Regions from separate parts of the Homo sapiens genome. Here region 2 is linked to region 1. Evidence: fine-mapped QTL for protein levels in blood plasma. A gene starts in region 1. The other region holds a variant in brackets. All regions are shown on one strand. Distances are from middle to middle. Region 1 holds the start of IGDCC4 (immunoglobulin superfamily DCC subclass member 4). Region 2 overlaps LOC105370866 (a long non-coding RNA gene).

Evidence for each region. PIP is the posterior inclusion probability: the model's chance that the variant is causal. Sun 2018 read protein levels with aptamers (SomaScan).
Region 2: its variant is fine-mapped to the plasma level of the IGDCC4 protein (Sun 2018, PIP 0.92).

The regions. Positions count from the first base shown.
Region 1 is chr15:65,419,821-65,425,342 of GRCh38, forward strand. It overlaps IGDCC4 (immunoglobulin superfamily DCC subclass member 4), which reads right to left and starts at 3,127. Exons shown (of 20, transcript NM_020962.3): 1 at 2,973-3,127. The coding sequence starts at 3,042. RefSeq lists enhancers at 2,030-2,139, 2,160-2,429, 3,405-3,939.
Region 2 is chr15:65,792,921-65,797,920 of GRCh38, forward strand. The region is part of intron 1 of LOC105370866 (a long non-coding RNA gene); the gene reads left to right. Among named protein-coding and RNA genes, the nearest start is that of DENND4A, 3.1 kb to the left of the region's middle. RefSeq lists enhancers at 1-226, 1-69. The variant CA/C (reference allele first, on the strand shown) is at 2,986.

The sequences.
Region 1 (5,522 bases):
CGCCACCTGTTCACAAAGGGGTCCCAGTCCCTGACTCAAGAACAGTGTTGGGAGGAGATGGGCAGGCACAGGCATTATCCTAACCCCAATACCAGCCCTTCATTCTGCCTCATGTTTTTTTGTTGTTGTTGTGTTTGTTTTTTTGAGACAGAGTCTCACTTTGTCGCCCAGGCTGGAGTGCAGTGGCGTGATCTCAGCTCACTGCAACCTTCACCTCCCAGGTTCAAACGATTCTCGAGTCTCAGACTCCCGAGTAGCTGGGATTACAGGCATGCACCACCACACCTGGCCAACTTTTGTATTTTTAGTAGAGATGGGGTTTCACCATGTTGGCCAGGCTGGTGTTGAACTCCTGACTTCACGTGATCCGCCCGCCTTGGCCTCCCAAAGTGCTGGGATTACAGGCGTGAGCCACCGCACCCGGCCTATTTCTTACTTTCCTCTCTCTCGCCCCCTACAAATTCAATCTATCCTCAAGTTCTACTGATTCTATTTCCTGAAAATCTCTGGAATGCAGCCACTCCAGCCCAACCCCAACTGCCACTATGCTAGCTGCCACCATCCTCTCTTCTGGATTGCTACAACAGCCTCGAAGGAGCTGGAGCTTCCTGCCTCCAGCCCCACCCAATCCATCCTCCACACTGGCTGGAATGAGATGATGCAAAGCTGATTTTAAATCCTGTCAAGGGCTCATGGGGACTCTCAGGCCAGAAACCTTGGTGGGCCCTGTAAAGCCCTTTGTGAGCTGGATCTAGCTCCCCTCTTCAGCCTCCTGTCTTGATACTCCCTGACCCCTTTCCATGCTTCCCTCACCTGCCCCCCATCCACCCCTTGTCCCTAAACTCCAGCTAGATTTAGTTTAATCCAATGATCTCAACTAAATCACCTCTGAACTTTGCACATGCTGTTCTCTGGAAAACTGTCCCCATCATCATTCTCCTTCTACAGGGCTAACTCCATGTCGAGCTCTACTACTCATCACTTTCTTCAGGAAGCTTTTGCTGACCTTCCCAGATCGGTGTAGGAGCCCCTCCTTCCTGCGTCTTCCCCAGCACTTCAGGGGACTTGTCAGTTTCCCCCTCCACCAGACTGAAAGCTTTGCACCAGGGATCAGGTCTGCCTCCTTATTTACTATATTCTAGGCACTAGGCACAAGCTAGCCTATAAAAGGTGCTCCATAAATATTTGTTGAACGAATGAATGACCTCAGTACAGATCAGGGTGGCTAGTCATGACTCGACTGGAGTGTCCCCCGGCCTGCTGAGATTTGGAGGACCAGGGCAAGCTGTTGTAGCCACTCACACTGCAACCAAGAGACGCCGCAACTCGGTCCCTCGCCTGCTTTGTGCGTTCGGGAGCAGGGAGAGGCCAGGGAAGCTGGGTCCCTCGCGGCAGGTCCTAAAGGTATTGAATAATGCGCCGGTGCGGTTCCCAGCCCTGATGCCGTTTAGCTGGGTGACCCTGAGCTCGTTCCAGGAGCCCTAGGAATAGCGGAAGGTGGGGCAGGGGAACTATTCCTTAATCCCCTGAGCTCTGGGAAGACAGACCTCTCTCTGACACTTCCCCGCCCCTTTCACCTGACAAGCCAGGGCCTCCAGCTCCTCTGGCCCAGCAGCCGAGACCCAGCCTCGCGGCGGCCTCCAGCTTAATCCGCTGTTGGGGCTGGAAAGGGGCGTGTCTTTGTAGGGACAGAAGGGGTCCGAGGAGTTCCCGGCACTTTCCCACCCGCTGTTTGGTTTTCCTGGAGATGGGCCTGGGGCTGGCCAGGCGGAGGCTCCTTCCCCCCGCCTCCCTCCCACGTGGCCTGGCTGAGTCTCTCTGGAAAGCCGCAGCAGCTGGAGAGAAATCCCCCTCCCCACCCCCACCTCCAAGTCCCTCCCCGACTCTCCCCGGACACATCCTCAGCTCCCCCCTCCGCGGGGAAGGCAAGAACTAGGCGAACAAAGCGGCCAGCCCATCCCCCTCCCAGCCCTGCCACCTACACTCCCCATGAGCCGCCCCCAAACGCACACCGGACAGGAAGCGACAGAGCTGTGGGTGGAAGCCGCAGCCCTAGACACACACCCTTGGGGACTTCGCTATCCCCTCCCCAGCCCTTTCTCCAGCTTGGACAACTCTGACTTACCCCGTACCCACTCCGCACTGGGCTGCGGACTGGATGAGGCCCTGCTGACCTCGTCCACGCTTCCCTGGTCGGTCCCTGGGGGGTGGGGCCGGGGTGACACGCGTCCCATCGTGAGAACAAGCGCTGGACATGTCCACGAAAGCAAATGGTTTCCTGCCCCCTCCCCCAGTCCACTGCTGGCCACAGGTTTTGGGGAGCAACACCTCCCTCTACCCCTCTCTAACCGGCCCCAGGGACCACACCCACTGGGCAAAGTTGAGTGTTGTTTTATCACCACCACCCCCAGTCAAACGGGATCCATCGCTCTGTCCCCCACTATGGGCAAGGACACTTCCCAAATGCCAAGGCCAAATATTAGCTCAGCCCCATAAACACAATTGCACACGCACCCGACCCAAATGGAGGTGCAGACACAACCCCAGTTCCCTCCTCTTTTACACACACTCTCAACCCAAGACACGCGCAGGCAAGGCAGAGCCCGCCCCGCGAAAGCCACCGACACCGCAGCTACCCGCCCCGCCGATGCCACGCCGCGACCATGGCACGCACTGCGGACACGACAGGAGCACTCCCAACACACACACACACACACACACACACACACACACACACGACTCCAGACTCTGCGAACCAAAGGCACACACCCACTGCGGACAAGCACGCCCCACAAACGCCCCCCGGCCGCAGCTCGCAGACCCCCGCGCAGGCATCGCGGGCACCTGGACGCGCAGCCCCCGCACTTGCTCGGGACTCCGGCTTGAGCCAGCCCCGCAGCCCGATGCAGACCAGGGCGCGGGCGCACCAGCACTCCGCAGTCGCTCCTGCCTCTCCGGGCGCCCGCCCTTACCGCGCGCGGCCAACAGGCAGAAGGTCAACGCGAGGAGCCCGCGGCCGCGGCCGGCGTCCCCCCGCGCCATGGGGCTGGGCTCGGGCCGCCGCCGCCGCCGCCGCCTCCCCGTGCTTCGGCCGCCGCCGCGGGGGGAGAGCGCGCCGGGCGTCAGTGGCCCGGGGAGGCGCGGCGCCGCGGGCGGGGGCGCGGCCTCGGGGGCCCGGGCCCGAGCTGGGGCCGGCGCGGGGGCCAGGGCCGCTGCCGCCTCACCCGCCCCTCCATCGCCATCTTGGGCGAGCGGCCCGGGAGGGGGCGCCCGGCGAGTGTGGCCACCCTGGCCCCGCCGGGGACCCTGCGCCCGCGCGCCACGGCCCTGCGCCTCGCGGGGGCTCCTCTCGGCCCGGGTCTGTGTCCCGGTGCCTCGCCCTCTCCGGGTCGCCGCGGGCCCCCGTGAGGCCGCCTGTTGCTGGGTCTGTCTCTTAGTCTCCCCGTCTCTGAGTCTTCTGGTCTCTCTGCCTCAGCGTCTCTATTTCTTCTCCCTGTTGCTGCCTCGGGGTCTCCACCTCCGTTCCAGGCTCAGGGGAGGCAGATTCAGGGCCACGGTCTTTGTCCAGATGGCCCCCTTGCCACCCGAGCCCAGTCCATTCCAGCCCAGGTCCTGGCCTGAATGCTGGTTCGCTTCTCCACACGTTGCGCCAGCCCACCTGCGGAGATCTTGATAGTCCTATCTGCCATCCCAAACCAAGGGCTTCTCTTGGCCTCCTTCCCTTGCTCTGGCAGTAACTAACACAGGCAGGACACTTTTACACTACCTTCAAGCACTACCATATTCAGATGTCGCCGCATGGGGAAACTGAGGCTGGAGAAGGTGAAGTGACTTGCCCAAGGACAGGAGGCTAGGGAGCAGCAGATACAGGACCTGAACCTTGGTTTTCTGACTTCGGAAGGTCATCTCCACTCCCTCACCCTGCCTCTGCTGTCCAGCATTTACTGAAGTACCCTTTTTCTCATTCTTCAACGGTACTTTCTCTAACCTACCTAGCCAGACTGTTTGCCTCAGTATCCCGCAAATATTTCTTGTTCTACAGCCAAGGGTTCAATTGTCAGGCTAGGGTGGGGAAAAGAGTACAGATTCAATGACCTAGTTAAGGTCCTTTCCAACTCCAAGATGCCATAGTTCTTCCCTTCCCTGTGTCTCTAAGTGTTCCTGTGACTTAGAGCCATCTTGTCTCTACACCTGTCTGTTGTCAGTTAACCCTCAATAATCACTGGCGCTTTGCATATCTAACAGGCCTGGCGTTTATTCATTCATTGCCACGCCCCATCTTCACTTGCCCTATCAGCAGCATTTGACTTAGTGAATCACTCCCTCTTCCTTGAAACACTTGCTTCCCTTAGTGATCTCATCTGGTCCTCAAGGCTTTAAAGAGCATCTTTATGCTAATGATGCCCAAATGTATACTTTCAGCCTAGACCATCTTTCCTGAACCCTGGACTTCTGTATCCAGCCATCCAGGCCCCAGTTCCTTTAGCTGTCTAGTAGACAAACTCATCCTGATCTTTTCTATCAATCTTTCTCCTCCCACAGTCTTCCTCATCTCAGTTCCTTTCCTGTTGCCCAGGTCAAAAATGTAGAGGCCAGGCTTGGTGGCTTACGCCTGTAATCCCAGCACTTTGGGAGGCCGAGGTGGGAGGATCGCTTGAGGCCAGGAGTTCAAGACCAACCTGGCCAGCATAGCGAGACCCCCATTTCTATTAAAAAAAAATGTAGAGTCATCTCCTACTCTTCATGTTCAGATGCTTCACCCTCCACTTTCTCACTGTGGCCTTGGTCCAAGACCCGTCGCCTCTCACCTGGATTGTCACAGCAAACTCCTCACTGATCTTTTTCTGTCCTTGTCCTCCTTGAGTGTTTTCTCAATACAGCAGCCAGAGTGCTCCTGTTAAAATGAGATCATGCCACTTCTCTGCTAGAAACCCACCAGCGGCTCCTATGTCAGAGCAAAAGCCAAAGTCCTTATTGTGACCCACAAGGCCTATCTGATCTGTAGGCTTGCTCTACCTCTCTGACCTCCCCTTCGACACCACCCCCTGTGCTCACCACCTCTCCAGCCACACCATCCTCCTTGCTGTAACTTGATCGCGGGCAGCCTCCTCCCCTCCAGCCTCAAGACCTTTGTCCGGCCAGTGCAAGTCTAGAGATCTGTTCCCTCATACTGGATACCATAAAGGCTTTCTCACAGCCTCACCCCCTACTCTTCCTATCCTCCTTCCCTGCTGTCTATTCTTGTCTTTAACTGTCACTTTCTTTTTTATTTTATTTTCTTTCTTTTTCTCTTCTTTTTTTTTTTTTTTTGAGACAGAGTCTTACTCTGTCCCCCAGGCTGGAGGGCAGTGGCTCACTGCAACCTCCGCCTCCTGGGTTCAAGTGATTCTTGGGTCTCAGCCTCTCAAGTAGCTAGGACTACATGCCCAGCTAACTTTTTGTACTTTTAATAGAGACGGGGTTTCATCATTTGGTCAGGCTGGTCTCGAACTCCTGACCTCAAGTGATCCACCTGCCTTGGA
Region 2 (5,000 bases), 370 kb after region 1:
ATGAGGTTAATAAAGCTTGATTACCCCCATGGGGTTGCTCGGGAGTTAAATTCTATAGTACCTGTGAAGTACTTAGTATAGTGCTTGAAAGTACTCAATAAATGTTAGACATTATTCCATGGACAAATGAAAGAAGAAACAGGACCCCCAAAATCCCTCTGCTTTAAAGTCAACTTTTCCTAAATTGCATAGCCTTTTACTAACCAAGTTTACAACTTTATTTCCTACCTCCAGTTCTTTCATTGTATTCATTCATTCAGTCAACAAACATCCATACAGAGGGTGCACAGTGGTGAGGGAAACAGAAAACCTTTGCCTTCAGGAAACTGCAGTTTAGTGGGAGAAGAGGGACAATAAAAAAGTACTTAAGCACATTTTAAGGGGAAACATGCTATAAAGGTTAGAAAAATAACTGAGGCCAGGCGCCTTTGCTCATGCCTGTAATCCCAACGCTTAGGGAGGCCGAGGCAAGAGGGTCAGCTTGAGCTCAGAAGTTCAAGACTAGCCTGGCAAAATGGCGAGAACCCTGTCTCCACCAAAAATACAAAAAATTAGCCGGGCGTGGTGGCGTGCGCCTGTGGTCCCAGCTACTTGAGAGGCTGAGGTGGGAGGATCGCTTGAGCCCCAGAGCCGGAGGCTGCAGTGAGCCGAGATTGTGCCACTGCACTCCAGCCTGGGTGACAGAGCAAGATTTTGCTTTAAAACAAAACAAAACAATCGAGTTGCATACTTTAAATATATGTAGTCCTCTGTATGTCAGTTAAAGCTGTAAAAAAAGACTTGTTTTTGACACAGAGTCTTGCTATGTTGCCCAGGCTGGAGTGCAGTGGCCTGATCACGGCTTACTACAGCCTCCCTCCCAGGCTCAATTGATCCTCCCACCTCAGCCTCTGGAGTAGCTGGGACTGCAGGTGCCCACCACCACACCCAGCAAATTTTTCTGTTTTTTGTAGAGACTATGTCTCACTATGTTGCCTAAGGCCGGTCTTGAATTCCTGGGGTCAAGTGATCCACCCACCTCAGCCTCCCATAGTGCTGGGTTTACAGGCATGAGCCATTGTGCCCTACCTTAAAAAGCTTTTTTTAAAGTCCAGTTGGGAACCCTCCCAATTCTTTACCCATTGGACACAGATTTAGCCTTTCATTAGTTTTAAGTGTTGCTAGACGTATCAGGTCAATTCCTCTTTAAGGAGTAGCTTGGCATATCAAAATATTCCACTAGCAGCAAAAGCACTCTTTTAGTTGGTTATACATGTATATGTGCATATATATATATATATACACACAAATATTTTCATCTACAGAGTACCAATTAAAATGTTATATAGTTGCATGTAGCATACACAATGAGATTCTAAAACCTTTCAAAAGTTTAAAAGGCGTGAAGGTTTTTTTAATCAGAGAAAATAGCTTCTTAAAGAACAATATTGATAAACAGTAGAAAACCAATACGCAGCATTTGACTGTGTACCCAGGAAGTATCGTACCTCAGAGCCCCCCTTAACAGTCATATCAGGAGTCCTCTCAACACTCCAGGCATATGTGACTATAGTCACAGTTAAACCTAAACCCTAGATGTGATTTGGGCAAGGGATTCTAACAATGTAGACATGAGCCAAATAGAATTTTTTGGATAATAAATTTTGGCCCCATGCCATTTCTGAAATTGTCATATTTTATATGTTGAACTGTATCCGGCTATTTCTTAGAAGTTATTTTAAAATGCTGTGATTTGAATGATGCATGAAGGAAAACTATGAAACCAATAACCATTTAAAGCAATGGAAGCGCAAGCTGTTGTACAGCCTAATCCTCTCCACCTGTTGAATCTATGCACCTTAATTGCTATACCAGAAGTTTCTCACATCTTTAAATGAAAACCTGGAGCCTCTAGAGAGCAATCCTTTTTTTTTAAGACAGAGTCTTGCTCTGTCGCCCAGGCTGGAGTGCAGTGGCGTGATCTTGGCGCACTGCAACCTCTACCTTCTGGGTTCAAGCGATTCTCCTGCTTCCCGGGTAGCTGGGATTATAGGCGCCCTCCACTACGCCTGGCTAATTTTTGTATTTTTAGCAGAGATGGGGGTTTCACCATGTTGGCCAGGCTGGTCTCGAACTCCTGACCTCAGGTGATCCGCTCTCCTCAGTCTCTCAAAGTGTTGGGGTTACAGCCATGAGCCACCACACCCGGCCCATAAAGCAGTCCTTGATAGCTATGCTACAGGGCTTCCTTATGGGTGAGAAAAACTACCAGGGATCTATGGCCTATTAGAAACTATTTAGATGTGTCACAAAGCAGAATCCATATTGACAAATTGTATTCACTGTGAAACAGTGTTTGAGTGACATTCCAATGTATTTAATCCAAAAACTAAAATTTATTAGCAATGTGGTCAAATTATCCATTTGTTTCTTAAAAACACAAACCTGATGAAATTATTTTTGAAAGAAATTATCTGCCAGCCTGGGCAACATAGCAAAACCCCATCTCTACCAAAATACAAAAATTAGCCCATGATGGTGGTGCATGCATGCCTGTAGTCCCAGCTACTTGGGAGGCTGAGGTGGGAGGATCACTTGAGCCCAGGAGGCAGAGGTTGCAAAAAAAAAAAAAAAGAAAAAAGAAATTATCTGAACAATTTTCAAGAATAATAGTAAGAAAAGTCATGTTAGAAGTGACAAATTCTGAAATTCTGGCTGGGCATGGTGGCTCATGCCTGCAATACCAGCACTTTGAGATGCCGAGGTGGGAGAATCACTTGAGCCCAGGAGTTTGAAACCAGCCTGGGCAACATATCAAGACCTCATCTCTACAAAAAAAAAACAAAAACAAACAAACAAAAAACAGACATGGTGGCACATGCCTGTAGTCCCAGCTACTTGGGAGGCTGAGTTGGGAAGACTGCTTGAACCCAGGAGTTCAAAGCTGCGATGAGCTAAGATCCCACCCCAGTATTCTGGCCTGGGTGACAGAGCAAGATCCTATCT[CA/C]AAAAAAAAAAAAAAAAGAAATATAAATTCTAAACCTGGTGCTTGAGAAGAGTGGCCAAGGACAGGAGAGCTGTAGCAGTCTGAGCCATTGCTGTCTCTGCCGTTTTGGTAGCCATCTGAGGAGTCATATCTTTGACTCAGCACTTTTTCAAATTTCTGAAAATGATCACTTCTCAACATTTTCCTCAAATTAACAATTTTACCTCTTTCAGCAATTCCTTATAAGTTGAATTTTTACTTCTTAAATTATCTGCAGGGGAGTTGTTTTAAAAATATGTATTTTAACTGTCATTGACCACGAAGTATACTCCTCTGACTTTCTTGAAGTGGTAGACAATATTTTCATAACTTTTAACAAATTCACTTCAGAAAACATTTGTATACAAAACACTGCACTAGGCACAGAAGGAAAGCAATGACAGATAAGCACACATTAGAGGCAAAAAGTATTTCCTAGGCATATAACTTTAGTAAAAGTCAAACTATGACAAATTCTATGCTAGATGGATAAACTCGTTGCTATGGGAGCCCAAGCGAGTGGAGTGATTAATTCTCATTGTGAGAATTGAAGGTGACAAAATAGACAAAATAGATGGCATTTGGACCAACCCTGAGAGAAACTGGACTTTCTCTGAAGGATAAGGACATCGTTGTTTGGGGAACGGGGCTGAGGGTGGTACAAGGAAGGAAAGGTGTGTTTGTTTGTTTGTTTTTACTTTGCATCTTTATAATAGAGCTAACAAAAGAAAGAGATGCTCATAAATTGTTGCAATACTTTGATTGTCTTTGGGAGTGGCCAGAGGTTCAAATTCTTTGGAAGGATGGATATCTGTGCTGACTTGCAGGAAATATGAGTCAGCTTTTCTCATGAACTCAGCACTGTTGTTATAGCTAGGCTATTTGGGAAACCTGAAGCAGAACAAATCAGACACCACAAGTCTTTTCTTTTTATTGATTGGCCCAGACATGCATCCTACAAGGGTGGACAACAAGAATGCCCTTTTTATTGTCAAGACTTAAAGGAACTCTGCCAGCAAGGGGAAACACCTGCAATTGAGAATAAACTAAAAAAAAAATTTAAAAAAAGCCCTCCTCTTTTCTGTCTATATAATCACTCAGAATAGGAGACACACACGTCTTTAGTCCATACCTCTCTCCTGCACTTCAGGATTGTGTATTCAACTGCCTCCAGATAGCTCAGTCCCAAGTATACCTGAAATTCAGCATTTAAAGGTGAAGTCATTATCTTTACCCCAAACCTGTTACTCCTATAATTTCTCATTTCCTGAATAATTTATAGTTGAACTCACCATGCACCTAAAAGCTAAAGCCGCCTGTGGAGACTGAATTTTTTTTTTTTTAGGAGTTCGAGACCAGCCTGTCCAACATGGTGAAACCCTGTCTCTACCGAAAATACAAAAATTAGCTGGGCATGCACCTGTAGTCCCAGCTACTCTGGAGGCTGAGTCAGGAGAATCACTAGAACCCAGGTGGCGGAGGTTACAGTGAGCCAAGATCATGCCACTGCACTCCAGCCTGGGAGACAGACTCCATCTCAAAAAAAAAAAAAAAAAAAAAAAAAAAAAAGTCAAAACCTGAGTCATCAACTCCTCTTTTTCCCTCATTCATTGACACCTAATTAATCTTGAAAAAGAATTGTTGTCATCTCCTTAACATCAGTAGTATCCTCCCTCACTTCATCCCCATTCCCACTGACCTAGTTCAAACCCACACCTTTTGGTTTGTTTTTTAGCCTGAAATTTTGCAGTAGTCATCTAATTGGATTTCCTATCTCTCTCTCTCTCTTTTTTTTTTGAGATAGAGTCTCTTTCTGTTGCCCAGGCTGGAGTGCAGTGGCGCAGTCTTGGCTCACTGCAACCTCCACCTCCCAGGTAACTGGGATTACACCTCCTGAGTAACTGGGATTACAGGTGCATGCCACCATGCTCAGCTAATTTTTGCATTTTTAGTAGAGAGGGGACTTCACCATGTTGGCCAGGCAACGAGCTCATCT